4 linked regions of the Homo sapiens genome follow. The protein of the gene in region 3 purifies or fractionates together with the protein of the main gene of each other region. This does not show direct contact. Each region holds a gene or a part of one and is shown on either strand. Other genes may lie near its edges.

The links.
Region 1: the proteins of NPM3 (region 3) and DDX31 purify together in Homo sapiens (co-immunoprecipitation; 2 studies listed by BioGRID and IntAct, with this or other methods). This does not show direct contact.
Region 2: the proteins of NPM3 (region 3) and RMP64 purify together in Homo sapiens (affinity purification with mass spectrometry; 4 studies listed by BioGRID and IntAct, with this or other methods). This does not show direct contact.
Region 4: the proteins of NPM3 (region 3) and NCL fractionate together in Homo sapiens (co-fractionation; 4 studies listed by BioGRID and IntAct, with this or other methods). This does not show direct contact.

Annotation. Positions count from the first base shown.
Region 1 is NC_000009.12:132,645,964-132,652,986, reverse strand, and holds part of DDX31 (ATP-dependent DNA helicase DDX31), read left to right. Parts: intron 1-494; coding exon 495-539; intron 540-1,870; coding exon 1,871-1,912; intron 1,913-2,688; coding exon 2,689-2,753; intron 2,754-4,435; coding exon 4,436-4,555; intron 4,556-4,691; coding exon 4,692-4,798; intron 4,799-5,928; coding exon 5,929-6,164; intron 6,165-6,915; coding exon 6,916-7,023. UniProt on the Homo sapiens protein: May have DNA helicase activity and RNA helicase activity. Probably have ssDNA and RNA dependent ATPase activity. Plays a role in ribosome biogenesis and TP53/p53 regulation through its interaction with NPM1.
Region 2 is NC_000003.12:113,016,661-113,023,589, reverse strand, and holds the start of RMP64 (nucleolus and neural progenitor protein), read left to right. Parts: upstream 1-3,918; 5' UTR 3,919-3,942; coding exon 3,943-4,048; exon of another isoform or gene 4,049-4,072; intron 4,073-4,180; exon of another isoform or gene 4,181-4,524; intron 4,525-5,987; coding exon 5,988-6,142; intron 6,143-6,929. UniProt on the Homo sapiens protein: May play a role in cortex development as part of the Notch signaling pathway. Downstream of Notch may repress the expression of proneural genes and inhibit neuronal differentiation thereby maintaining neural progenitors.
Region 3 is NC_000010.11:101,780,812-101,788,234, reverse strand, and holds NPM3 (nucleoplasmin-3), read left to right. Parts: upstream 1-4,788; 5' UTR 4,789-4,844; coding exon 4,845-4,962; intron 4,963-5,310; coding exon 5,311-5,396; intron 5,397-5,637; coding exon 5,638-5,757; intron 5,758-5,883; coding exon 5,884-5,977; intron 5,978-6,380; coding exon 6,381-6,499; 3' UTR 6,500-6,508; intron 6,509-6,602; 3' UTR 6,603-6,910; downstream 6,911-7,423. Other genes in the region: OGA (protein O-GlcNAcase), read left to right, coding at 712-871, 1,648-1,784. UniProt on the Homo sapiens protein: Plays a role in the regulation of diverse cellular processes such as ribosome biogenesis, chromatin remodeling or protein chaperoning. Modulates the histone chaperone function and the RNA-binding activity of nucleolar phosphoprotein B23/NPM.
Region 4 is NC_000002.12:231,454,463-231,461,485, reverse strand, and holds part of NCL (nucleolin), read left to right. Parts: intron 1-619; coding exon 620-817; intron 818-921; coding exon 922-1,008; intron 1,009-1,043; exon of another isoform or gene 1,044-1,118; intron 1,119-1,192; coding exon 1,193-1,334; intron 1,335-2,360; coding exon 2,361-2,485; intron 2,486-3,096; coding exon 3,097-3,220; intron 3,221-3,685; coding exon 3,686-3,843; intron 3,844-4,361; coding exon 4,362-4,485; intron 4,486-4,721; coding exon 4,722-4,855; intron 4,856-4,962; exon of another isoform or gene 4,963-5,042; intron 5,043-5,349; coding exon 5,350-5,476; intron 5,477-5,549; exon of another isoform or gene 5,550-5,686; intron 5,687-5,861; coding exon 5,862-6,085; intron 6,086-6,218; coding exon 6,219-6,295; 3' UTR 6,296-7,023. UniProt on the Homo sapiens protein: Nucleolin is the major nucleolar protein of growing eukaryotic cells. It is found associated with intranucleolar chromatin and pre-ribosomal particles. It induces chromatin decondensation by binding to histone H1.

The sequences.
Region 1 (7,023 bases), on a different chromosome or scaffold from region 3:
TGTGTTAGTCCATTTTTACACTGCTGATAAAAACATACCCGAGACTGGGAAGACAAAGAGGTTTAATTTGACTTACAGTTCCACATGGCTGGGGGAGGTCTCATAATCATGGCAGAGGACGAAAGACATTTCTTACATGGCAGCAGCAAGAGAGAATGAGGAAGACGCAAAAGCAGAAACCCCTGATAAACCCATCAGATCTCGTGAGACTTATTCATTATCACGAGAATAACCGGCCCCCCTGATTCAATTACCACCTCACTCCTGCCCCCCTGCCCTTCCTCCTACAACATGTGGGAATTCTGGGAGATACAATGCAAGTCGAAATTTGGGTGGGGGCACAGCCAGACCACATCAGTGGGCAACCTTATTTTGTCCCTTTCTTCATTAAGAGTGCTTCTGATGTTCTACAACCGGCCACCCCTGTGTCCTGTCCGTTTGGAGTCTGCCTTTGTTTATCCTGCTCATGGCATTTTTTTTCTGTGTGTCAACAGCGCAGTGATGGCCCCTATGCCCTGGTGCTCGTGCCAACGAGAGAGGTAAGCAGGCTCCCTTTTGGGACAAGTTTTAAGCACATGCTTTCACTAATGTCCCGTTGAATTTAAAAGTGGTTTTACCATGTTTCTCCCTACTGCACAAGCCACTGCACACCAGTTCCATTTGCCTGGAAACCATCCTTCTGGTTCTTGTCAAGGAGAAAAATTCAAGTAGTCTCTGAGAATCATAAGTATGGAAAAGTATTTTCCTATTGTCTAGAAACTAATGATACTATTAAATGTCTGTTTAATTGGGTTTTGAATTAAGTTGCTAAAAAAAAACCTACAGAAATGCAATTTTTTAGCAACTTTATTCAAAACCAAAAGCAGTTGGCTCTGAAAATGAACCTTTATTTTTTTTAAGAAGCTACTGCTACCAAAAATGTTACTTGTTCCTAAAAGTTAAACTTTTCAATATTTTTTTCTTTCTTGGTGGAAATCTCTTCTATCTGATCTATTTTATTTGCCTACAGAGGCAACTTCAGATTAGGGTATGTGGTTTCTATATCAAATGCTAATCACTTCCTTACAGAGAATTGATCACAGAGATGATTTGAAGTCAGCTTTTCATATAGCCTGCAGTCCCCTATCTCAGCTCAGTCCAATGAAGGAGCAGGCACAGAAGCTATTAAAATTTTTACAGCAGCAAACTTGCTACTTCTCGAGGATGCTTCATGAATACTAAATATGTGGAAACTGTATATACGTTCTTTAAGAACGGGATTCTGTATGAGGCATTTTTGAAGGTTGTTAATGGTTGTAGCCTACTTTAATTTTCACTTGCTTTGTTCTCAAATGGAGCTGTTGGTTTGCTTTTGTTTTATTGATATAAACTTGAGGAGCGACCATCTCCCAGGCTTCAGATATCCTGGCACAGTTGTAGAATACAGTCATCGCTCCTTGAGAGCGAAGTTCCCAGAGGCTACCCTGTTGCGTCACTATTGTGGTTTACTCTGCGTACATATTATATTCTTTCTCTTTCTAAGGAGAGTCAAATTCAGGTTACTTTGTTTCATTCTCTTACGTTTTTGTGCACCACAGACTTGAACTTCTCTGTGTGGCACTCTGGGAATTTGAGCCAGCAGAGGGAGCACAAAACACTATTTTTGTGTATGTCCAAGAAATAGAAGTGTTGTCTTTACCCTCTTTGCCCAAACTGACAGGTTGCAGAACCAGTCTAAGAACAAGGTATATTAGATTCTGTGTATAGGATTTTTTTTCTTCTTAAATCTTAACTTGAGGTCCAAGTTTGGATCCTAATCACATTAAATTGTCTTTAAAAAAAAAAAAAGGGGGATCCTGTTCATCATCTATAACTTTTAAAATTTTTACAGCTAGCTCTACAAAGCTTTGACACTGTCCAGAAACTGCTTAAGGTAAGGCAAACCATGAGTTCCATTTCATCTTGCTTGCTGACTTTGAGGAAGGATTTAATATACTACAGTCTATTCTTTATTTTCAAAGAGATAAGAATTATTTCCTTTTGCCTGGATATCTCTGCTCTCTCTAGGCAGTTTATAGGTTTTTACTGATCTAAACCTACCAATTTCTAGCTTAGCTGAATTATCAGTGACTCCTGGTGCATAAAGTCCTGCAATTTGTTCATCATAGTCACTAGCAAGCCACATACAGAAATTCACAGGTACAGCCTGATGGTGATCCAGTAGAAAGCAACTTAGCTGCAAGTAGGATTTGTTTAAGAAAGGAGAGTGAAGGCTTCAGAATCAAAGCCAGCCAGCTCACCAAATTGGATCATGAATTGATCCATCCTTTCTTTTATTAGGGGTGGAGAGTAGGGAAGGGTGTTGCTTGGGTTTTTATCTTAACCCCAAAAATGGCAGTAGACTTACTGACATGTGTTTTCAGTTCAGGCTCTGTGGGAAAAGAAAGGCAAGCTACTTGAATGATTTAAGAAGCTCACATTTCTCTCTCACTGTGGTAGAAGCTAGTTATATACCTATAATTCAAGTTACTGCTGATAGTGAACATGGGTGTAGCAATGCCTAGGAATTGTGTCTGCACAATAACACCTTATACAATGAGAAGCACCAGTTTTCTCCCATGCCTTGTTTAAGGAAAGGGAATTTGGAATCAATGTCTGATGTTAGTAAAGGGGGCTTTGCACTGACTGTGGTCTGCTGTCTTTCTGTAGCCTTTCACCTGGATTGTGCCTGGAGTGTTAATGGGAGGAGAGAAGAGAAAATCAGAAAAGGCCAGGTAGGAAGAGGTTTGTTGGTTGTTGTTTCCTTCTTGAATGTGTCCTGCCTTCCTATTCAGTAAGGCTGGGTCCTTCTAAACCTGCTGAGAGCTTTGTCTCAGGCTCTGCTTCCTAGTCCCGGTGCACAGGGACAGATTGAGTCAGTGGGGAGCGGTCACCTCTAGACGGTGCTGTTTTTTAAAATATTAAACCTACAAACAGGTTTCCTTCTGATGTTGCTAGTAACAGTGCTGTCAACTTCTTAACTCCCACCTACCCAATGCTCTATAGCATCCCTGGTTTAGTATACATCCACCTGCATGCCACTCATTTTTGTGGACATTAAGAGTTTGGGGTTTTGTTGTTTGCTTTTACAAAAACAAGATCATTCACTTATATAATGCTTTGTAACTTGCTTTTTACAACCGAATATGTTTGTTCCTTTATTAGGATTTGTAATGGGTGTCAGTTGAAAATCGTTGCAACAAGTAAATCTCAAATTGTCTTCATTCTTTTGAAAACATTTTTATTGTATTATAGCTTAATAATCAGTACTCAATAATGATGCATGTAGTCTATAACTGAGGAGTAAATATGAAACCTGAAACCTCAAAGCATTGGTTAGGATTAGACTCAGCTGTGAATAACAACAATAATAACAAATAACAGTGGCACAAACAATATACAAGTTTTATTTTTCTTTCACATTTAAGAAATCTGACAGAGCCAGTCCAAGGCTGGCCTGGTGCTCCAGTGTCGGGGACCAAGCTCTTTCTGTCTTTTTGTGCCACTATGGGAGGATTCCATTTTTAAGATTACCTCATAGTCTTAGATAGTTGCAGGCACTCCAACCATTGCATCTAATTTCTTGCCAGCGGGTACAGAGATGCTCATACCTGCTCCCTCTGAAGGTGCTTGTGTGATTGGCGTGTTCCCTTTACCTTTTATCCCATTGCTAAAACAAACATGACTATACTTAACTGCAAGGGAAGCTTGAAAATATATCCAGCTAGGCTGGGTGCAGTGGCTCATGCCTGTAATCCTAGCACTTAGGGAGGCCAAGGCAGGAGGATGACTTAAGACCAGGAGTTTGAGACCAGCCTAGGCAACATAGTGAGACCCCCGTCTCTACAAAGAAAAAAAAAATGTGCTAAAAATTGGAAGCTTTTATTACGGTGGACTGACAGGAAAATGGTTGTCTGGGGAATGAGAAATTAGATTTATTGTATATAACCCATGGGACAAAGCTGAGCCCCGTTGAATGGAAGTTACATAAAGGGCTTAGCATAAGAAAAAAGTGTCCTAGCAATTGGAGCACATTGGCATGGAATCACTTGCTCAGATACTAGATTCTCTGGCACAGAAACCTTCGAGAACAGGCTAGACTACAATCTCTTTGGAAGGTTCTAGAGAGGATTTATGAGTCAGATAAAGAGCATTGGATTATGTAGTTATGATCCCTTTCAAAGTTAAAGTTTTATGATTTTAATGTAATTTCAGATCTTAACAATTGCATTTCACAGTACAGGGAAAGACTCAAGTACAGCTTTCTACCCAGTTTTTATGTTTTGTCATGATTTCAGGCTATGGCACGTTTGCACTGTACATGAAATGAGTCTGTCTATTTTGCCTTTTTCCTGTGTTTTCTACTGGCGTGGCCCTGTTTGATTTACTTTCTTTTATGATATATAATTTTAAACAGACTCCGCAAAGGAATAAATATCCTTATCTCAACTCCTGGACGCCTGGTGGATCATATAAAATCCACAAAGAACATTCATTTTAGTCGGCTGCGGTGGTTGGTGTTTGATGAAGCAGACAGGTGAGCCTCGTCCCAGGATGATAACAGGTAGAAGAGAAGGGCTGTTTCTCCTCTCCTTGTTGCAACTTCTGTAGCCCCTTAGACCACATCTGCTCTTCATATAGTTGAAAATTTCTTTTTTTTTTTACAATCACAGAATCTTGGATTTGGGTTTTGAAAAGGACATCACAGTGATACTTAATGCTGTAAATGCTGAATGCCAAAAACGACAGAATGTCTTGCTATCAGCGACACTCACAGAAGGTGAGTTGAAAAGAAGTGATGGGTCCTTCTTTGTTCTTAATGAAGAGGAAGGACCTAGATTTAACCTGGGTTGTTTGCTGCAGTGATTCTCAACCTCAGGGAGGTGGGGGCAGGGAGAGAGCTGTCCTTAGAAGACTGCCTTTTCAAACTCTATGTTCTACACTCCCAACTTCCCTCTGCAAGTCATCCAAGACAGATATGTTCCCCAGGGCATGGGGAAAGGGAGAAAGGGCAGGGATGAGGACGAGAAAAGACTGGCTGCTATTGGCTTGGTGGTTTCATGAGGTTTTTGTGCACTTGCAACCCATGGAGAGCAGGGCCCTTGCACTGAAGATGATGACCTCTTATCTGAGTGCATTTTTAATGTAATCACTCTTCCTCCTATAGAGCTATTAAACTTAAAAAATATATCAATGAAGCGCTTCTCTGTCTTCCATCCATGTGAGATGGAAATTCTTAGCTCTCTTTTTTATCACTGGGAACACGAAGGCTTGGAAAAGTTGTATCACTCTACCAGATCCACCCCACACAGTGAGTCATTGACCAGCAGTGCAGCTTTCACGTTTTTCTGTCTGGTTTCCTTGATTTACTAGGCCACATTATGATGTGCATGTACCAGATGCCATGCATGTGGTCCCTCACAGTTCCCTATGTTCTAATTTTTGAGGGATGATTCACGAAGAAGGGATTCTGTGGTCAAGAAAGTTTGAGAAATGCCCCACATCCCTCCCTTGGATATTCTCAGGGCACATTAACACAATAAAGGCCCTGAGAGGGCTGCTTATAGCAAAAACGCTTTTGTGAAACCTTTGAAATCCAAGATTTGCCATAACTTACTTGACCAAAGAACCCTTTTGGGAGGTGGGGGTGGGCGCAGTATCTGTTGCTATCTTTTGGACGCTGTTCCATAGGTGAGTGTTTATAGAATGGCTATGGAAAGATACGTTGGTAGATCTCCCTGCAACACACACGTTGGCACTAGGGCGGATCAGTGCTGGGACTTGGTGATACCCATGGGGTAACATACGTAGTCCTAACATACATGGGTGGGTGCTGTATGGGGGTACGCTTTTGTGACCAGTTTCATGGTGTGTTTGTTGTCTGCTTTGCCCTTCTTACTTTTATCCAAGGTGTAACGCGGCTAGCTGATATCAGTTTGCATGATCCAGTCAGTATTTCTGTCCTGGACAAGAGCCATGACCAGTTGAACCCAAAGGACAAAGCGGTCCAGGAGGTCTGTCCTCCACCAGCTGGCGACAAGCTGGACAGCTTTGCAATACCAGAGAGTCTCAAGCAGCATGTGACTGTGGTTCCCAGCAAACTGAGGCTTGTCTGCCTAGCGGCCTTCATCCTTCAGAAATGCAAGGTGGGACTGTGGGCTAGAGCCGACTTGATTCAGGGAAGAAAGGCCTGCTTTCTTGTGTTAAGCCATTGGGAGCAATGAGTTGAGACACCAAAAATCAGAGGTTTTCCAACTTATGTCTGCATTCCGGATGCAGACTTTGATATACATCCTTTCAGTCAGGTTTTAGGATTATGGTAAAAACTCAGAGGTCAATGATAGCCATGATGTTCAGCTTGAAATGTTCTCGATACCTTTCCTGGGACTGATATTAGGAACATCACAGGTGGCGGGAACAGCTGGATGTGAGGCAGACGTAGGGGCTTGTGCTCATGTTTCTCCAAGAGTCTTGGCATTTGTGTATTTATTTACTAGATTTCTGCGCTGACTCTGAGATGTGAGAAAATAGTAAGTGGAAGGGCTTAAGGGTGAAGGTTTTCTGCATATGTAGGGTCTCAGCCAGGTAGTGTTGCATGTGGCAAGCCCTGGGCGAATAAAGGGAACGGAGCTCCCACACAGCTGTGCTCCCAGGTGTGTTTATTTTTGTCAGATAAGGGAAACCTGTTTGAAATGATAGCTGTGTCGTTTTCCTCTCCTGCATTCTTTGTAGAGTGGAGTATCACTGTTTTTGTTTTTGTTTTTTTAAATAATTCAAAGATAGTCACCTTTATTTCCAAATGGGGGTCAGCATGACTGTATAGTTTAGAGAAATATTCGTTTTGGCGTCACCTAATCTTAAAATATGTCGGTTTTTCCTCCCTTTGTATCGATGTAGTTTGAGGAAGACCAGAAGATGGTTGTCTTTTTCTCAAGTTGCGAGCTGGTGGAGTTCCACTACAGCCTCTTCCTACAGACCCTGCTGAGCAGCTCAGGGGCGCCGGCA
Region 2 (6,929 bases), on a different chromosome or scaffold from region 3:
TTCAACATGAGATTTGGGTAGGGACACAGACCCAAACCATATCATCATTCTAGACATGTAAATATGTAAATAGGTTGAGCATCTTTAAACTGAAAATCCAAAATCTGAAGTGCTCCAAAATGCCAAACTTTTTGAGTACTGACATGATGATACAAGTTACCCTGAACACATTAATTTTCACTGTATTAATGGTATATCATTTTTTTTACTATTAAGCACATATGTGTGAATAAGAGAAAAAAATGGTTGCTTAACAGCAGCATATAGGCTGGGTGCGGTGGCTCACACCTGTAATCCCAGCACTTTGGGAGGCCAAGGCGGGCAGATCACAAGGTCAGCAGATCGAGACTATCCTGGCTAACACAGTGAAACCCCGTCTCTACTAAAAATACAAAAAAACATTAGCCAGACATGGTGGTGGGCACCTGTAGTCCCAGCTACTCGGGAGGCTGAGACAGGAGAATAGTGTGATCTTGTGAGGTGGAGCTTGCAGTGAGCCGGGATCGTGCCACTGCACTCCAGCCTGGGCAACAGAGTGAGACTCTATCTCAAAAAACAAACAAACAAACAAACAAACAAACAAAAAAACAGTAGCATATAAATTCAGAGTCAGGAATGATGTTGACACCAAACAACCACAGACTGTCCACATGGGTGATTGAGATGTACACAAACTTTGTTTCATGCACAAAATTATTAAAAATATTACATAAAAGTTTCTTCAGGCCATGTGTTTAAGGTAGATATGAAACATACATACATTTCATGTTTATACTTGGGTCCCATACCCAAGATATCTCATGTATATTTGCAAGTATTCCAAAATCTAAAAAAAACCGGAAATCTGAAACAATTTTGGTCCCAAGCATTTCAGATAAGGGACACTCTCCACCCATGCTAGACATCTAAATAAGTCATACTGTCTATATCCAGTAGAAATGCTTGAAGGTTTGGGTCTGCATCATTTCTGGCCTTAGCTTTTGTAATAGAACAGATGGGCCTGGTCTCCTTACTTCCAACCTCTTCTCTCCCAAATCTGTTCTCCAGGGTGCTCTTCTTCTGAGGCAAGCTGACAAAAATTGCTCTGCCTAAGACTCAGTGAGTGACTCCTTTATCACCTATAGCAAGGACACGTCAACCTAGAGTACCATCACAAAGACCTTTTCAAAACAGACCTACTCAGAACTAATGAGTAAGAATTTTCAAGTGGGACCTGAAAATCTCTATTTTTAAGTTATCCAGGCAATTTTGATAATCAGCCAGGTTTCTGAACTACTGGTCTTCAGGTAAAAAGCCAAATTCTTCCCATGATCTGACTGACACCACTATTCCCAGCTCCACCCCTCAGCACAAATCACGTCCCAGCAGTACCAACTCAGGACTAGTGATTCTTCAAACCCATGCTGCTTAAAACCTCTCTGTAGGAATATCCTTTTTCCTTTAACTGCCTGGGGAGTTCCTATTCATCCTTCAAAAGACTCTATTCAAGCATCATCCAACCTCATATACAGCCAGTAAATATCTACTGAGGCCCTACTATATGCCAGGCTCTGAACTAAGCATTGAGATAGAAAGACCAGTTAGCTATGTCAATGGTAGTTCTCGCTTTCAGTAGGTTCATATGCCATTGGAGAAATAGACATGAAAGTAAACAAAGAAATACAATAAAGCGAGGTAAATTCTGTGAGAGAGGCTGTGGTAGGCTGAATAAAGATCCCTCCACCTCCCACCCAAAGATGTTCACATGCTAATTTCCATAATCTGTAAATATGTTACCTTGCACTGAGAAGGGATTTTGTAGCTATATAACCTTGAGATTTCAGCTGCTTGAGATTTCAGCACCCCAGCATTTTTGTGTGTGTGTGTGTGTGTGTGTGTGCATGAAATAATGAAAATTTTGAACAGGCCCTTGCTTGCTTGTACATGTTAACCACTCGCTTTTTGCCCAGTATTCCTTGTTCCCACAATGTAATTATAAACTGCTGATGTACTGTTTCTTTGTCAAGCAGAAGGAGATAACTTCAGGGTCATAAGAATAGTTTGCAGAAGGAATGAATTCCTGGAAGGACATTGCAACCAGCTGCCATGTACATACGGCTGCACAAGGTGTTACCTGAAATGGAAGAAACACAGACTTTTCCCTTGGATTCCTTGAAACTCCCTCTCCATTACTCTCTAGCTCCATAAAAACTCCCTGCTTCTTTTTTGTTACTGTGGATCTGAGAGATCTTGCTCTCTTGCCCTCTAACTTTGGTCAAATCGAATAAATATTTCTCTGTCTCCAAGCACCAGTATCTCAATATTTGGCATCAGCTGCCCATCGGGTACATGAGCCTGAATTTGGAGTTCTAAAACAGATGTGATTAAGTTAAAGATTCTGAGATGGAGTGACTATCCTGATTATCTTGATGGGCTCAATGTAATCACAAGGGTGTTTTTAAGAGGGAGGCAGGCAGGAGGGTGAGAGAGACAGAGGAAGAGGAGGAGACTGAAAAATGTCATGCTGACAATGAAGGTGGAGGATAGTGAAATGAGCCAAGGAATGAAGGCAGCCTCTAGAAGCTGGAAAAGGAAAGGAAATGAATTCTTCCCTAGAGATTCCGGAAGGAACCAGCCCTGCCAACTTCAGTCCATTGAAATTAATTTTGGACTTCTGACCTCCAGAAATGTAAAATAACTTCTACTTATTTCAAGCCATTAGGTTTGTCGTAATTGGTTACAGCAGCAATAGAAAACTAATACATAGGCCAACATAGGGCACTGTGGTAACACATTAAAGGGGCCTCTGTATCAAGTTATGGAGTGAGGACGGGGTGTTTAGGAAGAATTACCCCAAGTGACGACCCCAGAGCTGAGGAAAGGAGATTGTGTTTCCGAGGATGACCCAGGTAGAGTAGGTAGATGTGTAAAGGCGCACAGAAAGAGCATGGAAAGTGTTTCAATAAAGTAAGACTGCTTGCATGAAATAGTAGTAATAACATCAACAATATTAACTATGGTAAATGTTCATTGTTTGTATGCCAGGAGTGCCTTGGCATTTTACAAGTCTGTGAGATTGATACTATTATTATCATCTTCATTTTACCCACAGGGATACTAAGGTCTGGAGGAGGAGGTAAGTAAATTTCCTGAGATCACCGAGCTAGTAAACAGCAAAGCTAGAACTAGAACCTTGGCAGTCTGTTTCCAAAACTCACTGTTTTTCTAATACGTTACTGTGGGAGTGTTAAGAACTTAAGGGGGCATTAGCATGGCTGAGGATAAATGAATTATTAGAAAGATATTAATGAGGTAAGGATCACTAGAGCTTGGAATATGATCTTGTCTTGGAGACTGACAAAAGTGGGAATGACTGACAGGTGTCTTCCAAGTTTCTTTGATGTGATCTCGGTTTTGCTGTGGTTCAAGACATAAAGGAGCCTTCCTTTACCACTCAAAGCAAATCACTGCTTCTTCGCTACAAATTCCACACCTTGCACAAACCTCTTCATTTCATTTCTTCCTTTTTCCCCTAATGTCTGAGGCAGAGTTGGGGGTAAAAGCACCAACTCAATTCTGGGCCTCATTTTCCATATTTGTAAAATGCCTAGAAGTATTTAACAGTTCCAAACTTGGTTGTGCTTCCGAATCCCCTGCGCTAAGTTTAAACAAAACGCAGATTCCTCATCGCATTCTCAGAGATTCTGTTGGTTAGTATTGGGATGGGGCCTTTTTTCCCCCATGATTCTACGCGGCCACGTGTTGGTAACCAATATACAGATGACTGGGTCCTTCCCAGTCCCACGCGTTTACTCGATGAAGGCAGCCTCCCGCCGGGCTCCTGGCCCCGCCCGAGCCCCACCCCCTGCTCCCTTCCGGCCCGGACTGGGTCCCATCGCCCCACCTCCGGTCGCTGGACGTGCTCTCGCGTAGCTCCGCCTTTCGTAAGTCCCCCCGCCTCGCATGATGGCTGCGGTGCCGCCGGGCCTGGAGCCGTGGAACCGTGTGAGAATCCCTAAGGCGGGGAACCGCAGCGCAGTGACAGTGCAGAACCCCGGCGCGGCCCTTGGTGAGTGAGGCGCCGGGCGAGGATGGGGGAACGTTTCCGGGGGAGGCCGCCAGGCCCAGCCGGCGCATGTGGGCGGGGGTGGTACCGGGACTTCCCGGCCCGGGGGACGCTGGGAAGGGGCGCGGGGCACGTAGGGGTCGAGCGGTCCCAGCACTTTGCTGGTGTAGCTTGTAGGGCCTCTGGCTTCGCATTCCTTCATTGAACCAGCTGTGCTAACCCAGGGCTTGGCTGGAGAGATGAAAGACCAAGGCTCAGCCGTGCGCTGAGGGGGCGGAGAGAGGTGGACTCAGCTGGTGCCGGGGAACAGTGCTGCCTGGGAACCCTTGCTCACCCGGGTCTTCGGAGTCTTGTTTACCCTTCCGTCCATTTCCCCTTTCCTTCTTTTTCCTGTACCCGAGGAGCGGTGGACGTCACCTAAGCACTGGGACTCAAACTGCAATCTTTTCGGACCTCTATCTGCTTATCTGTGAAATGGAGTTAGTCCTCCTACTCCTCACAGGGGCGTTGGGAATATCTAATGATGTAATTTAGGAGACAGTGCGCTGTAAACGACGGTGTTTTGCCACCTAAATGGGTGGTATTTGTTAGGGTGAAGGGCATATAGTAGGTAGGAGCCTGGCGCAGGAGCCAGGTTGTTTGGGTTTGAATACTAGCTCTACCCTTTGCTGGAGCTTGAAGGAGTCATTGAACCTTTCTGTGCCTCACTGATCTCACTTTCAAATGGAGATAAAAGCACCTTCCTCATAGGGCTGTTTGGGGGGATGAAAGAGTTGATAATGTAGAGAAAGCATTTGGAACACTGCCTGGCATGGTAAATGAACACTCAAATGGAAGCTGTTATGAATATTAAATACGTAGCTCCGGGGCCCAAGGGAGAGAATACAGTCATGGGTTCTTTGTTTCCGGTTGGGCTGGTAAAGCCCTTTCCTCATCCCTCTTTTCACTAGAGACAAACTAAAAACCATGGCTTTAAGCTGCAAAAAGCCTAAAACAAAACAGAACAGAACAACAAAATAAGGCGGGTTGGACAAGCTTGACTTAGATCATCACATCCCCTTTCCCATATATCCATCCTACACACTTTACAGATTATCCCATCTATCCTTCCTACACACTTTACAGATTAATCTTCCCTCTTTCTCTATTCAAAAATTCTTTAACAACTCCTATTAGGCCTGGGAAATTCACCAACTCACTACCCATCCCCGAGGCAGCCCATTCTGTCTTCAGGTAGTTGTTGGGACAGTAAGAAAATTCTTGTTAGGTAGCAACCAGCCTTTACTTCCATTTAGAATGCTAGTGCTGCCTTTAGAGCCATAAATAACACATGAACTACATCTTAGGGACTTCTACAGATTTTCAGACTAGGAAGCATCTGCTGATGAGCACCCGGTGTTCATCAAATAATACGATTTCCAGTTACTGTGGTGGTTTTTCTTTTCTGAATATGTTTGTGTCTCTCATAAAGTGATATCCAAACACAGAAGCCTTGATTTTGAAGACTGTGAATTTATTCATTCTGTCTTGCTTTCGGGCATAGCGACATGGGGAGTTAGAGAGTTATTACACATGTTGTGACATGTGCCCTACCTTCAAGGTGGGGGTTAAGTGTACACATGAGGCGTAAGTGTACACCAAATGACTGACAGCAAAGTATTCATATGAAAGATTATTAAACCATGATAAAATGCAATGCAAAGATACAGCTTCTTGTTTTACAGATGTTCTCTTAATGATTTCCTGGACTTTATATCATCTGTTACCATTTTCCAACTTCTCTTATACTTAGAATCCTTACGTTCTTACAGTTGAGACTGATTACATTAGTTTTTGATTCCTTTAAAACAAATAAGGAAAGATGCTTTTTTTAGTGTGTTTTTAATATAATATACTTACTGTAGAAATACATACTAAATCTTATTAGATGTCTCTGCTTCAGACCTTTGCATTGCAGCTGTAATTAAAGAATGCCATCTCGTCATACTGTCGCTGAAGAGCCAAACCTTAGATGCAGAAACAGATGTGTTATGTGCAGTCCTTTACAGCAATCACAACAGAATGGGCCGCCACAAACCCCATTTGGCCCTCAAACAGGTGAGGAAGCCCGGTAGGTGAGACCCAACCTGTTCACTTGAAAATGTAGATCACACTGCCACTTACTATATTGCTATTTATGGAAATCTCGTGGAAATCTCAGTAAATTACTTGTGTTTTATAGGCCTATAGCCCACAGTTACATGTGCACTTTCTTTTTTTTTCCTAAAAGCATTTCAGCATTTCAAAAAGTAATTTTTGTTAGAAAAGAAGTATGTTTAGATTCTTTCCCAGTCTTGTTTCTAATAGGCAAGTAAACATTTTCTTCATTATATACAATCTATAACAACAGTGCCTTTGCCCAGCTCAAAGATAAAGTGATTTGAGCAAGACAAAATGTTGGACATTAAGAAACAGTTCCCTGGGCATAATCAGAATGCTAAAATTATTTTTAAAAAAACTTGTCTACTTATTATGGGGTACATAATCTAATTGGTGGTATGTTAGAGTAAATGGGTACATAGCAAGTTGTGGTGTAAACTGGTTTCATGTAATGTTTGGAGCTTAAGACAAAATTGGGCCCTCCAGCTCAGGGGCTATACCATAGAGTAGAGCCTCTCTTAAGCTGGCTTCCTGATATGCTCATTCATTCATTCACTTAATTCTGCAAGTATTTTCTGGAAGTTCAGAAGGCTATCCATTGTGTGACAGGGCTACCTTGCAAGTGTTTTTGAACTTTCTGTGTGCCAGGCATTCTGCTTAGTGCTGTGTATAGAGGAGTGAAAAAGGTAGACACAGTCTCTAACCTTATAGATGCATGCTTTCTGGTTAGTTTTCTACCCCTAGT
Region 3 (7,423 bases):
AACTCCTGAGCTCAGGCAGTCTGCCTGCCTCAGCCTCCTAAAGTGCTAGGATTACAGGCGTGAGCTACTAGACCCAACCCAAACTTTTTTTTTTTTTTTTTTTTAAGACAGAGTCTCGCTCTGTTGCCCAGGCTGGAGTGCAGTGGCGCCATCTCAGCTCACTGCAAGCTCCGCCTCCTGGGTTCACGCCATTCTCTTGCCTCAGCCTCCCGAGTAGCTGGGACTACAGGTGCCCGCCAACACGACCTAATTTTTTGTATTTTTTTTTAGTAGAGACAGGGTTTCACTGTGTCAGCCAGGATGGTCTTGATCTCTGGCCCAAGCTTTTAAAAGTGAAAACGGTGGCCAGGCACGGCAGCACACACTTGTAATTCTAGCACTTCAGGAGGCCGAGATAGAAGGATCACTCGAGCCCAGGAATTCGAGACCAGCCCTGACGATATAAATAGGGAAAGAGAGAGAGAGAGAGAGAGAGCGCGTGCACGCGAGGGAGAATGCCTGCCCCTCTCCAGCCTGGCCAACAGAAGGAGATCCTGTCTCAAAGAAAGTGAAAATGCTTCAGCTAGAATTATAGGATAATCCTGTGTGAGATAATTTACATAGTGACTGGAAGAGTTATTAAATATTGCTTTCTTGTTGCTAAGTTCTGTAGTTGGGTTAGATATCTAATGCGTAACTATTGTGAAAGTCAAGAGATTCTAATTTTTCCAGAAAATAATGTTGAGTTTCCATGAAGAACAGGAAGTACTGCCAGAAACTTTCCTTGCTAATTTCCCTTCTCTGATAAAGATGGACATTCACAAAAAAGTAACTGACCCAAGTGTGGCCAAAAGCATGATGGCTTGCCTCCTGTCTTCACTGAAGGCTAATGGTGAGTACATATTTGTGGAGTTGGTGGTATTTGGGCAAGATAGGGAAAGAACTATATATTTTTGGATATAAAAGGAAAGAAGTGAATTGTAAATTTATACTGCTTTTCCCACCTTTTATGATTTGGTTTCTGAATTAATTAGTGGTGAAGAATCGCATGTGTATTAATAATTGAGAAATGCTGGTTGGGCTTAGTGGCTCATGCTTGTAATCCTAGCACTTCGGGAGGCCGAAGTGGGAGGATCACTTGAGTCCAGGAGTTTGAGACCAGCCTGAGCAATATGGCTGAGACCCCATCTCTACCTAATTTAAAAAAAAAAAAAAAAAAGGCCGGGCACGGTGGCTCACGCAGCACTTTGGGAGGCCGAAGTGGGCGGATCATGAGGTCAAGAGATCGAGACCAGCCTGGCCAACATGGTGAAACCCTGTCTCTACTAAGAGTGGTGGCAGGCGCCTGTAATCCCAGCTACTCGGGAGGCTGAGGCAGGAGACTTGCTTGAAGCCGGGAGGCGGAGGTTGCAGTGAGCCGTGATCTTGCCACTGGACTCCAACAGAGCAAGATTCTGTCTCGGGTGCGGGGGAAGCTGGGTGCAGTGGCTCACGCCACTCATTATTGAATTTTTTGAATATGAATTTTTTTAATTGTGTGAAATGTAGGAGCTGGTGTAGACAGACAAGCCCTGTTTATATTAACCATCTCGAAGATTATAGTTTTATATCTATAATTATACTAATTAAGTGACTTATTTATGTTTTGAATATTTGTTTTATTTCTAGGCTCCCGGGGAGCTTTCTGTGAAGTGAGACCAGATGATAAAAGAATTCTGGAATTTTACAGCAAGTTAGGATGTTTTGAAATTGCAAAAATGGAAGGATTTCCAAAGGATGTGGTTATACTTGGTCGGAGCCTGTGACATTTGTTGACACTGTGAACTGTCCAAAAGTCTCTTAACTGCACCTTGTGAATGGTAGTTGAGGTCTTCATACAGTTCAGCCTCTAGAATGGTAACAAATCAGCCAATTGGATTCGAAACAAAGAAGACTATGTAAAACTCACCCATCACACTTTGAGACTACTCACTGGTTGGAAGAATATAGTATTGCAGCAAATCCTGTATGAAAGAGAGATGTGGGCTTCCTTTTTGAGTCTTGTGTTAGGTGCTGAGACCTTTTACATGGGCTTATACAGGGAGAGAGTCTTCAATAAATGTAGTCAGCACTATTTTCTGCATCCAGTGTGGTTGCGTTTCTCACCTGAGAGTAATCAAGATAACATCTGTCATCTTCCTTGGTTTATTGAGTGAAATGCCTCTCAGTCTTAGGGGACATGGCAGAGATGAAAGAAAGAAAGAGTGGGTTTCAGAAGTGTCAGGGTGGAGTGATTCCAAGTGGGATGGTTGTGGCATTAGTTTAAGCTGAATAAATAATTTCAATTTGGGGCAGTTATTCTGCTTTTTGTAAAGCCGTGGCCAATTGTCTCCTGTAATGACTGTTGGTTCAGGCATGTTGTACTTTGTAGGGACAAATGTGCATTTGTTTGTGGCAAAAGCCTACAATTGACAAACTTGTAAATTTCTTTGTATATAAACTAGCTGTAACCTGACTATCCTTTGTGTTTACTGTTTTTGTAAATTTTTTTCCTCTATAAATGAAAGGGTGTTGGTTCAGAATGGCACTTTGAATAATGTAAACCAGTGAAAAGTGGATTTTCTTTACTTTTGTCTTTGGGTTTGGGGTTGTTTTTGTTCTTTTTGAAGTTTTATTATTTTTAAAGTGCCTCCCACCTAGGCGTAGGCCATGACCATTTGGGGTACGAGAGCCTAATTTTGTAGGACTTAATCTGTTGAAAAGTGCAGTTACTTCTGGAAATTAACCTCAATATTAGGTCAGCATGTGAAATGTTGGATTTGACATGTCAGGTAGGGTTCAGGGACTGATTGGTCCCATTTGCCCTCAGGTCAGTTGTTTAATCTCAAGACCTGTTACTACTGATTTTATTAAATCAGAGTCTTTAATTCTTGCATGTTTGTATCTAATTTCTGAATGAATGAGCACACTTTAACCAGTTATTTACAGTTACCTTTTTCCTTTAACCGGATTGTGAAAGCTTCATGTATTTTAATTTAGATTCTGTGTTTTTAAGGGTTCTGAGCATGAAGCTGGCAGATAGTCGGCAGGACTCATTTTTTCATCATGGCTGGCTGATTTCTCCATAGATTGATAACAGTATTTTGTTATCTTGCTTCTCTGTAGTTTTGCATCAGCTGTTTAACTTTGAGCTGAGTGAGGGGAGAGGGGTAAAGAGAAAGAAACTTAAGTTTTCTTTCACAGAACTCCACCATTGTGGGCTTTGAGAGAGCCCTAAAGCATTGTACCTAGTGGTACCTAGTGACTTCCAACCAAAGCCTTTGAGTATGCACTAAATAGGTGAGAAGAAAGGAGAGAAGGTTTTTAGGTTAGAAACCTTTAACCGATAGAAGGATATGGTATGTTGTAAAGCTGGAACCAAGTTTGCATTTTTGAGGGCTTGAGATGAAGGGAAGACTCTTACCAGATAGTAAGACAGCTGAGTTTTCCTCAGTTTTCTCGTCTTAACACTAGTGGACAATTCTAGCATTTTGTTTGGAGGATTTCAGAGTTAACCTCATGGAATTCAGGATTTTTTAGCAAGTTTGCTTTTGGTTTTATCTTGGCTTTTAGTAATCATGTTGGCTGGTCTGGTCACAGGTGACTGTGAAACAGATGCCCTGGTCTTGCTTTCATCACTCTAGGATCATGAAGTGCTATGCTATTTCCTGGTTATGAATATTAAGGTTGGAATTACATTTTTATTGATTGTTTGGATCAGAGCTCAGTTCCTGTAGAAAACGAACTGTAAAAGACCATGCAAGAGGCAAAATAAAACTTGAAGTGAATGCTTGTCGTGTTGTATTGTGTGAATCTATTTCCTGTCTGCCCCCTCCCTTTTCTCCTCTTTCATGCCTCACCTACAAGCAGGTATTCTCTCCTCTCCACAGCTGTTCCAAGTTAGAGATTGGATCTTGAAGGCAGCCCTCCCCTACCTCCATCACCAGTAAGACTTCCAGATTTTCATTAAGACAAGAGCTAAGAAAAGTAGACTAGTTTTTAGCCAAGCCACCCCACCCTCTTGCCACAGTTATAACCTGGATGTGAAATAGGGCCTCTAGTTTGAGTTTTGCCATCTATTAGGATAGAAAGCACACAGTTTGCCTGATTCTTAAAAGGCGAAAGATGGCGCGAGTAGCATAAACTGACAAAATAATCCACGGCGCAAAGATACTCCTGGATGATTTGGAATTAAAAGCTCAAAAAGCGTGGGTGGGCCAGGAACAGCCAACACACATGAGCTAACTAGTCCTCTGCTAGCAAGTGCCAGCAGCTAAGTCTCAGTGAAGGCATAGCAAGTTGCGGGGTCTTTAGAGCAGGAAGAATTAAGAGAGGCTTAGCCGAGAGGACAGACAGGACAGACGTGTTGGGATGGAAATTCCTAAGGCTCCTCGGCTCTCTTGAGGCAAAGACAATCTGAGTGCATTTCCTTTGCTTGTAGCAGAAAAGCACTGCCCTGAACCCCACCTTTGCTGGGAGGAGTAAGAAGGGTTTACATTTTTATATCTATAACTCCTTTAACGAAAGCTTACCCTGGGTTGGAAGAGTGGGAGACACTCTTCCGACACAGAGCGAGGAGCTTGGGGAAGTGGACACCCTCATGGTCGTGGAAATGAGCAAGGATGTTAACATAAACCCCAAATCCATTCTTCTGTGATGTTACTTCCTTTCTCTTCGGTCTTGATAAAATATGAGCAGAAGCTGCGGGCTCCGGGTAGGGCTGCGGGGTCTCGGCGCCTTTTCTTTTCCAGGACTGTGCGTCTCCTTTAATGGGCGGGGCCGGAACTGGCCGAGGGTCCCCGGCTTTGTGCGTGTCGGGGGCGGAGTTTGAAGAAGGCTCTTACAGCATGGCCGCCGGTACTGCAGCTGCCTTAGCGTTTTTGAGTCAGGAGAGCCGAACGCGGGCCGGGGGTGTCGGGGGCCTACGGGTCCCGGCCCCGGTCACTATGGACAGTTTTTTCTTCGGTATTAGTGAAGGGAGAGGCTGAGGGTGGTACTGGGGCGGTAAGAGGTAGGGATGTGAGGCGGGAATGCGGAGGGTTTCAAGGCGTGGGTGTGGGCGGAGGGCTGCTTCGCTGTTCCCGCAGGAGAGGGGGCCTCGCACGCACAGCCAAAGGGGGTGGCGAGATCCCTGCCCCAGATGTGTTGGGCGGGGCCCACGGCAGAGCGTCCCAGGTGTTCTGAGAGAAGAGACGGAGGTGGACGTGTAAATGACCCGTCCGCCCAAGGTTACACGTGACGGCGGGTTGGTGACATCCCCCGCTGCCCAGCCCCGTACACACGCTCAGGCATACTCACTGTTATTTCTACCAGGCTGTGAGCTCTCCGGCCACACCCGCTCCTTCACCTTTAAGGTAGAGGAAGAGGATGATGCGGAGCACGTGCTGGCACTAACCATGGTGAGGGGCAGGGGAGTGGGGTTTTAATGAATAAGCCCAGGCAGGCAATATAGGTCTCTACCCAACCTCCGGATCCCCTTTACTTGGAGACACATCCTCAGCCTAACCCCCCGGCATGGGCGGCTCCCCTGGCCAGGTGAACCGGGACCTCTGAGGCTGGGCAGGTGCTAGGGTAGATGCCTTTAGTTGTGGTGTCAACCCTCACTTGAGGAGACCCTGAGGCCCTGTGTACCGTTCCCAGCTCTGCCTCACCGAGGGAGCCAAAGACGAGTGTAATGTGGTAGAAGTTGTGGCCCGGAACCATGACCATCAGGAGATCGCAGTCCCTGTGGCCAACCTCAAGCTGTCCTGCCAACCCATGGTGAGTTCCCCAGCTCTGCCTTGGTGGTGGTGGTGGTGGTGGTGAGGGGATTGAGGACGTTAGCACTCATTACAGTGTGGGGTGGGCTAGGAGTGGGCCAGGCCTTCATCCTTGTCTTCCTCCCAGCTCAGTCTGGATGACTTCCAGCTCCAACCACCTGTAACCTTCCGCCTGAAGTCGGGCTCTGGCCCTGTGCGGATCACTGGGCGGCACCAGATTGGTGAGAAGAGGGGAGGGCCCTCTCCTTTGCTTCCAGTGGACTCTCCCATCAGGCTTCCCCCACTCCGCACTCCTGCCCCATCCCACCCTCATCTCCCAGTGCAGCCCTGTACAGGTCTGTGTGCCCTCCACGCTGTGCCCTGTGCATGACATGCCCTCTCCTTTCCGTCTACTCAAGCCTACCTCCTCCATGGAACATGGCCCAACTTCTCCAGCTCCAATAATGAAGACTCCTTTGGCTCTTTGTGACCCAGTTTAGGGTCTGAGGTTCTTCCCACCTAGCCCATAAGCACTGGGAGGTCATGGTCCCTGTAAGCCTAACACCACGGCGTGAAGAAATGGCATGCGGTGTGAAACGGTCTGGTCTTAACACCCCATCCTTCTACTGCTTGTGTGTCCACCAGTTACGATGAGCAATGATGTTTCTGAGGAGGAGAGCGAGGAAGAGGAAGAGGACAGTGATGAGGAAGAAGTTGAGCTGTGCCCCATCCTTCCTGCCAAAAAGCAGGGGGGCAGGCCCTAGCCCTCCTAGGTGAGTTGCGGGGAGAAGTGCCTAGCAGGCTCTGGGAAGGGGCAGGAGAAGCAGGTGAGGGCCTAAATGCTGATTCCTTGTTTCCTCTTTTCAGGTCAGCTCCATGTGCCATGCACCGCCATGCACCCTGTTCCCTGACAAGTTTCAACAATTGTAAATATTTCTTCCTTGAAGAGGAGAGCTTGGGTGGGGGTTGGGTGGGAGGGACTTGGGTCTTTGGTGCTAGGAGAGGGCCTGTGCTCCACACAGCCGTGGTTTTCTGATTTTCACCATGCCCGGGGCCTCCCTTCCCACCTGCCTGTGAGAATTGGAGGTTAGTGCCTGAAGCTCAGAGCTACACATTTTTAATAGTTTTTACATTTTTGGATAAAGGTTGAAATAAAGTGGTGTGGAGTTTTTGCAGCTCTTGTGTGGCTTCTTCCTGTGCTGGGTGATGTTTCCCTAGGGACCGCCAGGTGGCACTGTGGAAGCACCCAGCGTGGCCCTGGGCCTGGGGGAGGGTGGAGAACTGTGGGATCCTCTACCCTCATGGCCCTGGGCTAGGACCTGGGGCCTGGGCCCCAGTTGCCTTGCTGGAAGGGGACCTCCCAACACTCAGCCCATTCCCAGTCTCTGCAGGTGGGAGAGGGTCATCGCAGGAGGTTATCAGCATCCAAACAAGGGGTCTGGGCCTCTGTCAGCACTCGGCTGATGGGCAGGGGGGCAGATAAGCGAGCTTAGGCAGCCTGAGGAATGCGCGTCCCTAGCCCCACGAGGGTCTCTGGCCCAGAGAGGGCCTGTGAGGGCAGGGCGGGACCAGGCTTCGCTCCTCCTTTGAGCCTTGCAGGCTGTCTCTGAGCAGGGCTGGGCCCTTAGAGAAACCTGACTCCGGGGGCCAGATGGAGGGGACTGGCCAGATTGGGTGACAGGGAAACC
Region 4 (7,023 bases), on a different chromosome or scaffold from region 3:
TCTGGGATCAACATATTCCTTCCACGACAACCTGGAGATGAGATTAGAATCCTTGTGGGAATTCTCTGGGTTGTTGTGGTGTGCTAGACTTAATTACCCATGAATGATTTTTGTGCCTCTTGAGAAAATTTCAATAGCACATTCTATTAGTGTTTTTTATAATGTAGGATTTTGTTTCTAAGTGATTTTTTTTTTTTTTAAATTTTTTTGAGATGGAGCTTTTGCTGTTTCCCAGGCTGGAGTGCAATGGCGCGCTATCTCGGCTCACTGCAGCCTCCATCTCCTGGGTTCAAGCAGTTCTGCCTCAGCCTCCCGAGTAGCTGGGATTACAGGTGCCCACCACCACACCCTACTAATTTTTGTATTTTTAGTAGAGACGACATTTCACCATGTTGGCCAGGCTGGTCTCGAACTTTTGACCTCAGGTGATCCACCCACCTTGGTCTCCCAAAGTGCTAGGATTACAGGCGTGAGCCACTGCGCCCGGCCCCAAGTGATCTATTCTTGCCATGACTGTTAACTAAACATGGTGACAGGATTGCATTTTCTTTACATTAGATTTGAAAACCGATGTTGGTTTTGGGAGATTGCTGCAATTTTTAGGTGACTTCTCTTTCAGACTCTGAAGAAGAAGCTATGGAGACTACACCAGCCAAAGGAAAGAAAGCTGCAAAAGTTGTTCCTGTGAAAGCCAAGAACGTGGCTGAGGATGAAGATGAAGAAGAGGATGATGAGGACGAGGATGACGACGACGACGAAGATGATGAAGATGATGATGATGAAGATGATGAGGAGGAGGAAGAAGAGGAGGAGGAAGGTACTTAAATTAGATTCTGACATACGACATGAGTTATGTTTAAAGGAGGCACTTAAGTGTTTGTGGCTACTGATGTGTGATACATTGTTTGACATCTTGTCCAGAGCCTGTCAAAGAAGCACCTGGAAAACGAAAGAAGGAAATGGCCAAACAGAAAGCAGCTCCTGAAGCCAAGAAACAGAAAGTGGAAGGTAACTTGCAGAATTAGGGGATATGGGGGAGATAAACAGCACAAATGATGAATAACAAAGGGACTTAATACTGAAACCTGATGTTACATTGTAGTGTGCTGATGTGCTGTGTATAGAAATTTTGCTTTGGAAACTAACTTTTTACCACACTACAAGTAGACTGAGTTGAGCTTTTTTTGTGCAGGCACAGAACCGACTACGGCTTTCAATCTCTTTGTTGGAAACCTAAACTTTAACAAATCTGCTCCTGAATTAAAAACTGGTATCAGCGATGTTTTTGCTAAAAATGATCTTGCTGTTGTGGATGTCAGAATTGGTATGACTAGGTAAGTGCTTCACTGCACGTTACATACACGTGGGTCTGTTAATGCTTTTCCTTCCCCTGTTAGCACAGTTACTTTAGCCTGCTACTGTTAAACATGAATACTGTAAACATCTTCAAGGATTAGCATTAGTGAACTAAGTTAGAATTAAACTGTAGATCCCCTAAGTTGCAATTTCCATAATCAGTCGTAACTTGGTATAGCACAGAATAATTTTTAGTAAGTTTTTTTGTTGTTTTTGTTATGTATTGAGACGGACGCTGGCTTTTGCTCAGGCTGGAGTACAGTGGCGCAATCTTGGCTCACTGCAACCTCTGCCTCCCGGGTTCAAGCGATTCTCCTGCCTAAGCCTCCCAAGTAGCTGGGATTACGGGTGCACTTCACCATGCCTGGCTAATTTTTGTATTTTTAGTTGAGATGGCATTTCACCATGTTGGTCAGGCTGGTTTTGAACTCCTGACCTCAAGTGATCCACCCACCTCGGCCTCTCGAAGTGCTGGGATTACAGGCGTGAGCCACCCTGCCAGTAAGTTTTAATAATTTGGTGTTAGGTGGGAGAATCGCTTGAACCTGGGAGGCAGAGGTTGCAGTGAGCCAAGTTCGCGCCACTGTACTCCAGCCTGGGCAACAGATTGAGACACCGTCTCAATTTAAAATAATGTTTATTTTCTTGGAAGTACCTGAAACTATTAGACCTGTCTAGTCATCATAGTGAATACTTTTATCCAGACAGGATTCTCCTGTATTAGTGCTTATAGGTGTTCTTTTGTCAGCTGCTACTGTGAATTCTTATAAGCAATTTAGCTCCATGATGAAGACCTCAAACGTGAATGTGCATGTCATATCTTCATGCTGAGACCTTGTTCTGTAGCTGCAGTTTGCAGAGCCTTGACTTTGTTTTGCTAATACTAGGGGTGCTTTTTAAAATGTGATCTTTGTTTGCACCATCACATTTGTCTAGAATACATATTGTGGATTTTGATTTGTGTTTTCACCTGTTGTAATTTTGCCCTCCTCTCCACCTTGAAGGAAATTTGGTTATGTGGATTTTGAATCTGCTGAAGACCTGGAGAAAGCGTTGGAACTCACTGGTTTGAAAGTCTTTGGCAATGAAATTAAACTAGAGAAACCAAAAGGAAAAGACAGTAAGAAAGGTATGTAAGGCTTTATGAGATTATGCAATGAACTCAGGAGCTAGACTGCTAGGGAAAATGCTTTGTAACCCATTTCCCTTGGTTTCCTCTTATTTTTTTAAATCATTTTTTTCCTTTGGTTTCCTCTTAATGTGGGAATTAAATGAGCTACAGTGTTTACAAGAGTACTTGGCACTGCTTGTCAGTGTTATAGTGTAAATTCCTGAGTTAGGCAAGCAAGAGCACTTTTATACAGAACAAGAATTATTAGATGCACCTAAATTAACGTAAAGGGATCTTTCTTCACTGAAACTAGATTAGGTCCCTAATTACTCCCTATATACAGTTGTAATGTTTTGAATTGGTACATTCACTTTTTTTGTTATGCGCGTCTACTCTAGGTTGAACTCCAGTGTACCTAACAGAGAGTTTGACATCAGCTGTGACAACATGGAGGGACCACTTGTGTGTTGACACTGCTATATCTCCATATTTAGCACCGAGCCTTGTACATTATAGGATCTCAAATTATTTGTTGAATAGAGCTATGTGTGTTTTTCCCCTCTTTTTGTTGTTGCCCCCCACCTTTGGTTTTTCAGGCCACAGAGCTCATTTTTGTTTTTTTAATCTAGAGCGAGATGCGAGAACACTTTTGGCTAAAAATCTCCCTTACAAAGTCACTCAGGATGAATTGAAAGAAGTGTTTGAAGATGCTGCGGAGATCAGATTAGTCAGCAAGGATGGGAAAAGTAAAGGGTATGTTCTGTCTATTGAAATGTAAGGGTTTTATTAACATTAATGCACTTTCCTGCTTTATAAAAGAAATATTGGTTTGATTTCCTTAGGCGTGTAATCTTGGACAGTTTAACCTGTAAGTTTGTGCCTCAGTAACCCATCTGTACCATGGGGATAATGTACTCATAGGGTGATTTTAAAAGACAAGCTAATACTTACAAAGAAGCAAGAAATGTGCCTATCTTACAATAAATACTTTGTAAGTAGTAGCAGTTCTTTCAGTGAGGTGAGGTTACTATGAAAAAATTCCAAGTATTTGTAAAACTAGTGGGAAGTAAGAGGGAAGCTCGAGTTTTGATTGAAAAGTGGCATAAAACTAAGGGCATTTATTGTACTCAGATCTGAAGCAAGTTCTGTGTTGCTGAGGTAAAAGCATTTGTGTTAATATGGTTTTAAAAACCATGAGTTCTTCTCCCTCCATTGCAGGATTGCTTATATTGAATTTAAGACAGAAGCTGATGCAGAGAAAACCTTTGAAGAAAAGCAGGGAACAGAGATCGATGGGCGATCTATTTCCCTGTACTATACTGGAGAGAAAGGTCAAAATCAAGACTATAGAGGTGGAAAGAATAGCACTTGGAGTGGTAAGAAATTAGGCTTGTTACAAGGTTTCAGAATTGGTGGAGGGAACTCCTTTGTGTCTTTGTATTTCATAAGTTTATAAATACTTTTTAATCAAAGTTACTCAAATGTAGGTGAAGATCAAGGACATGATACCCCAAGTCATACTCTTATTTGGAATAGTAATTTCCAATCTTGAATGAGAGCTCTAAAATCATTTTGCATTGGAATACAGTAGGCAAATCAAGCTTCCTTTGTAGGCATGTTTTATACTTTAAATGACTTGACCATGTGCGTTTTGAACTCAGATGATTCTAGGAAAACAGACCAGTCATCAGCCTATGTAAGAACAACCAGCAGGACATTGCAACACGTACTAGGTACTTAATATGTTGAGTAACAGAAATGGATTTAGCTTACGTCATGAGTATTTGTATATTAACTCAAGCACTGAAATTCTTAGGAATAAGATATTACTGTTGTGACCGAAGCTGGGAACCACTGTTTCAGAGTCTTAGGAATGTGGCATCTCTATTTGCAGGTGAATCAAAAACTCTGGTTTTAAGCAACCTCTCCTACAGTGCAACAGAAGAAACTCTTCAGGAAGTATTTGAGAAAGCAACTTTTATCAAAGTACCCCAGAACCAAAATGGCAAATCTAAAGGGTAAGATAATACCTTTGTATCATCAGTTATAGGCTATATATGTCTTAGAGGTCTAAAGGAACGTAAGGTCATGTGATCCTGTCAGAAAAGCCAAATAATTTTAGCTACGTAAATGAGTGTAAAATAAAGATCATCATTTAGGTACCAACTTGAGAGAAGGGGCTTGGCAGCATCATGTGACAGTGAAGGAGCATGTGCCTGGTAACTTACTCTAAGCATTAACTGTTCATCCTCAGGTATGCATTTATAGAGTTTGCTTCATTCGAAGACGCTAAAGAAGCTTTAAATTCCTGTAATAAAAGGGAAATTGAGGGCAGAGCAATCAGGCTGGAGTTGCAAGGACCCAGGGGATCACCTAATGCCAGAAGCCGTAAGTTCACCTGGTTAGGGTGCTGTGGTTGGGGGTAGCACTCTCGGTGCTTTGTTTATTTTTTGCACAAATTCTGTGTTTCCTGTTGCTACTGAGTGAACAATAACTGGATATGATGACTGATTACCTGAGAAATAATTGATGAAATCTCAAGAAAATTCCTCTAGATAGTCAAGTTCTGATCCAGCTGTGTCAACTCAGAGTAGCAAGTTTGCCCATGATTTCCTGCCCCATCCACTGGGCCCCACCTGCTTGGGTTGCTTCTCCCACTTTCCATAGAAGATCTGGGGCAGGATATCAACTATGCAATGGCAATTAAAAAATGTAAACCCAGAATAGCCTTTACTTTAATTAAGGACTAGTTGGCTTAGTTGCTTTTAACTGCTTTTTCACTATAACAAGTATTCTTGGCTAGTAGTCATACTAGGCATTGTGCAAATTCAGTGTTACGAACTGTGACTTCACATAAAGTCACATTTTTTTTTCCTTCCCAGAGCCATCCAAAACTCTGTTTGTCAAAGGCCTGTCTGAGGATACCACTGAAGAGACATTAAAGGAGTCATTTGACGGCTCCGTTCGGGCAAGGATAGTTACTGACCGGGAAACTGGGTCCTCCAAAGGGTAAGGGAAGGAAGCGTGAGTGCTGCTTCCACTTGAAGGGGTTTTTGTTCTGTGCAGACCTTGAGTCTAATGTGTCTTCTCATTGAGCTCCTTTCTGTCTATCAGTGGCAGTTTATGGATTCGCACGAGAAGAAGAGAGAATTCACAGAACTAGCATTATTTTACCTTCTGTCTTTACAGAGGTATATTTAGCTGTATTGTGAGACATTCTGGGGTTCAAGCTGTCACACCAGTTAGTTTTCCATAGAGAGCTACTCTGTCACTGGTATCTTTTCCCAAATAAACAAGGCTACTTTCTGTGGGATGGCTCCCCAGCATGTACAGTTAACTTGGGACATGTGTAGTAGGTGCTTTTTATAATGGGCAATTTCATTTGGTGTTCTAGGTTTGGTTTTGTAGACTTCAACAGTGAGGAGGATGCCAAAGCTGCCAAGGAGGCCATGGAAGACGGTGAAATTGATGGAAATAAAGTTACCTTGGACTGGGCCAAACCTAAGGGTGAAGGTGGCTTCGGGGGTCGTGGTGGAGGCAGAGGCGGCTTTGGAGGACGAGGTGGTGGTAGAGGAGGCCGAGGAGGATTTGGTGGCAGAGGCCGGGGAGGCTTTGGAGGTAAGGCACGCAGAGATAATGACACCACATAGCATGTGCTCTTCAGACCCTGTGCCCTGTCACGGTTCCTAATCACTGGGGAGGAGGAGCTTTGTACCCATTCTTTTAACAGTGTCTTGCCTTCCTCCTGTAGGGCGAGGAGGCTTCCGAGGAGGCAGAGGAGGAGGAGGTGACCACAAGCCACAAGGAAAGAAGACGAAGTTTGAATAGCTTCTGTCCCTCTGCTTTCCCTTTTCCATTTGAAAGAAAGGACTCTGGGGTTTTTACTGTTACCTGATCAATGACAGAGCCTTCTGAGGACATTCCAAGACAGTATACAGTCCTGTGGTCTCCTTGGAAATCCGTCTAGTTAACATTTCAAGGGCAATACCGTGTTGGTTTTGACTGGATATTCATATAAACTTTTTAAAGAGTTGAGTGATAGAGCTAACCCTTATCTGTAAGTTTTGAATTTATATTGTTTCATCCCATGTACAAAACCATTTTTTCCTACAAATAGTTTGGGTTTTGTTGTTGTTTCTTTTTTTTGTTTTGTTTTTGTTTTTTTTTTTTTTGCGTTCGTGGGGTTGTAAAAGAAAAGAAAGCAGAATGTTTTATCATGGTTTTTGCTTCAGCGGCTTTAGGACAAATTAAAAGTCAACTCTGGTGCCAGACGTGTTACTTCCTAAAGAGTGTTTCCCCTGGAATGTCACTGGAGAGCATGGCAAAGCCAGCTCTGCCACTTGCTTCACCCATCCCAATGGAAATGGCTTAGTGCGTGTTTCCAGTATCCCAGCCCTAACTAACTTGGTTGAAATGCTGGTGAGGGGACCTGCTCCTGCAGCCCTGGTGCTGACTTGAAGGCTGCTGCAGCTTCTCCTACTTTTAGCAGGTCTGAGGATTATGTCCTGAAGACCACTCTGGAAAGAGGTGCAGGAACAGATTAGTCAGGTTTCCTA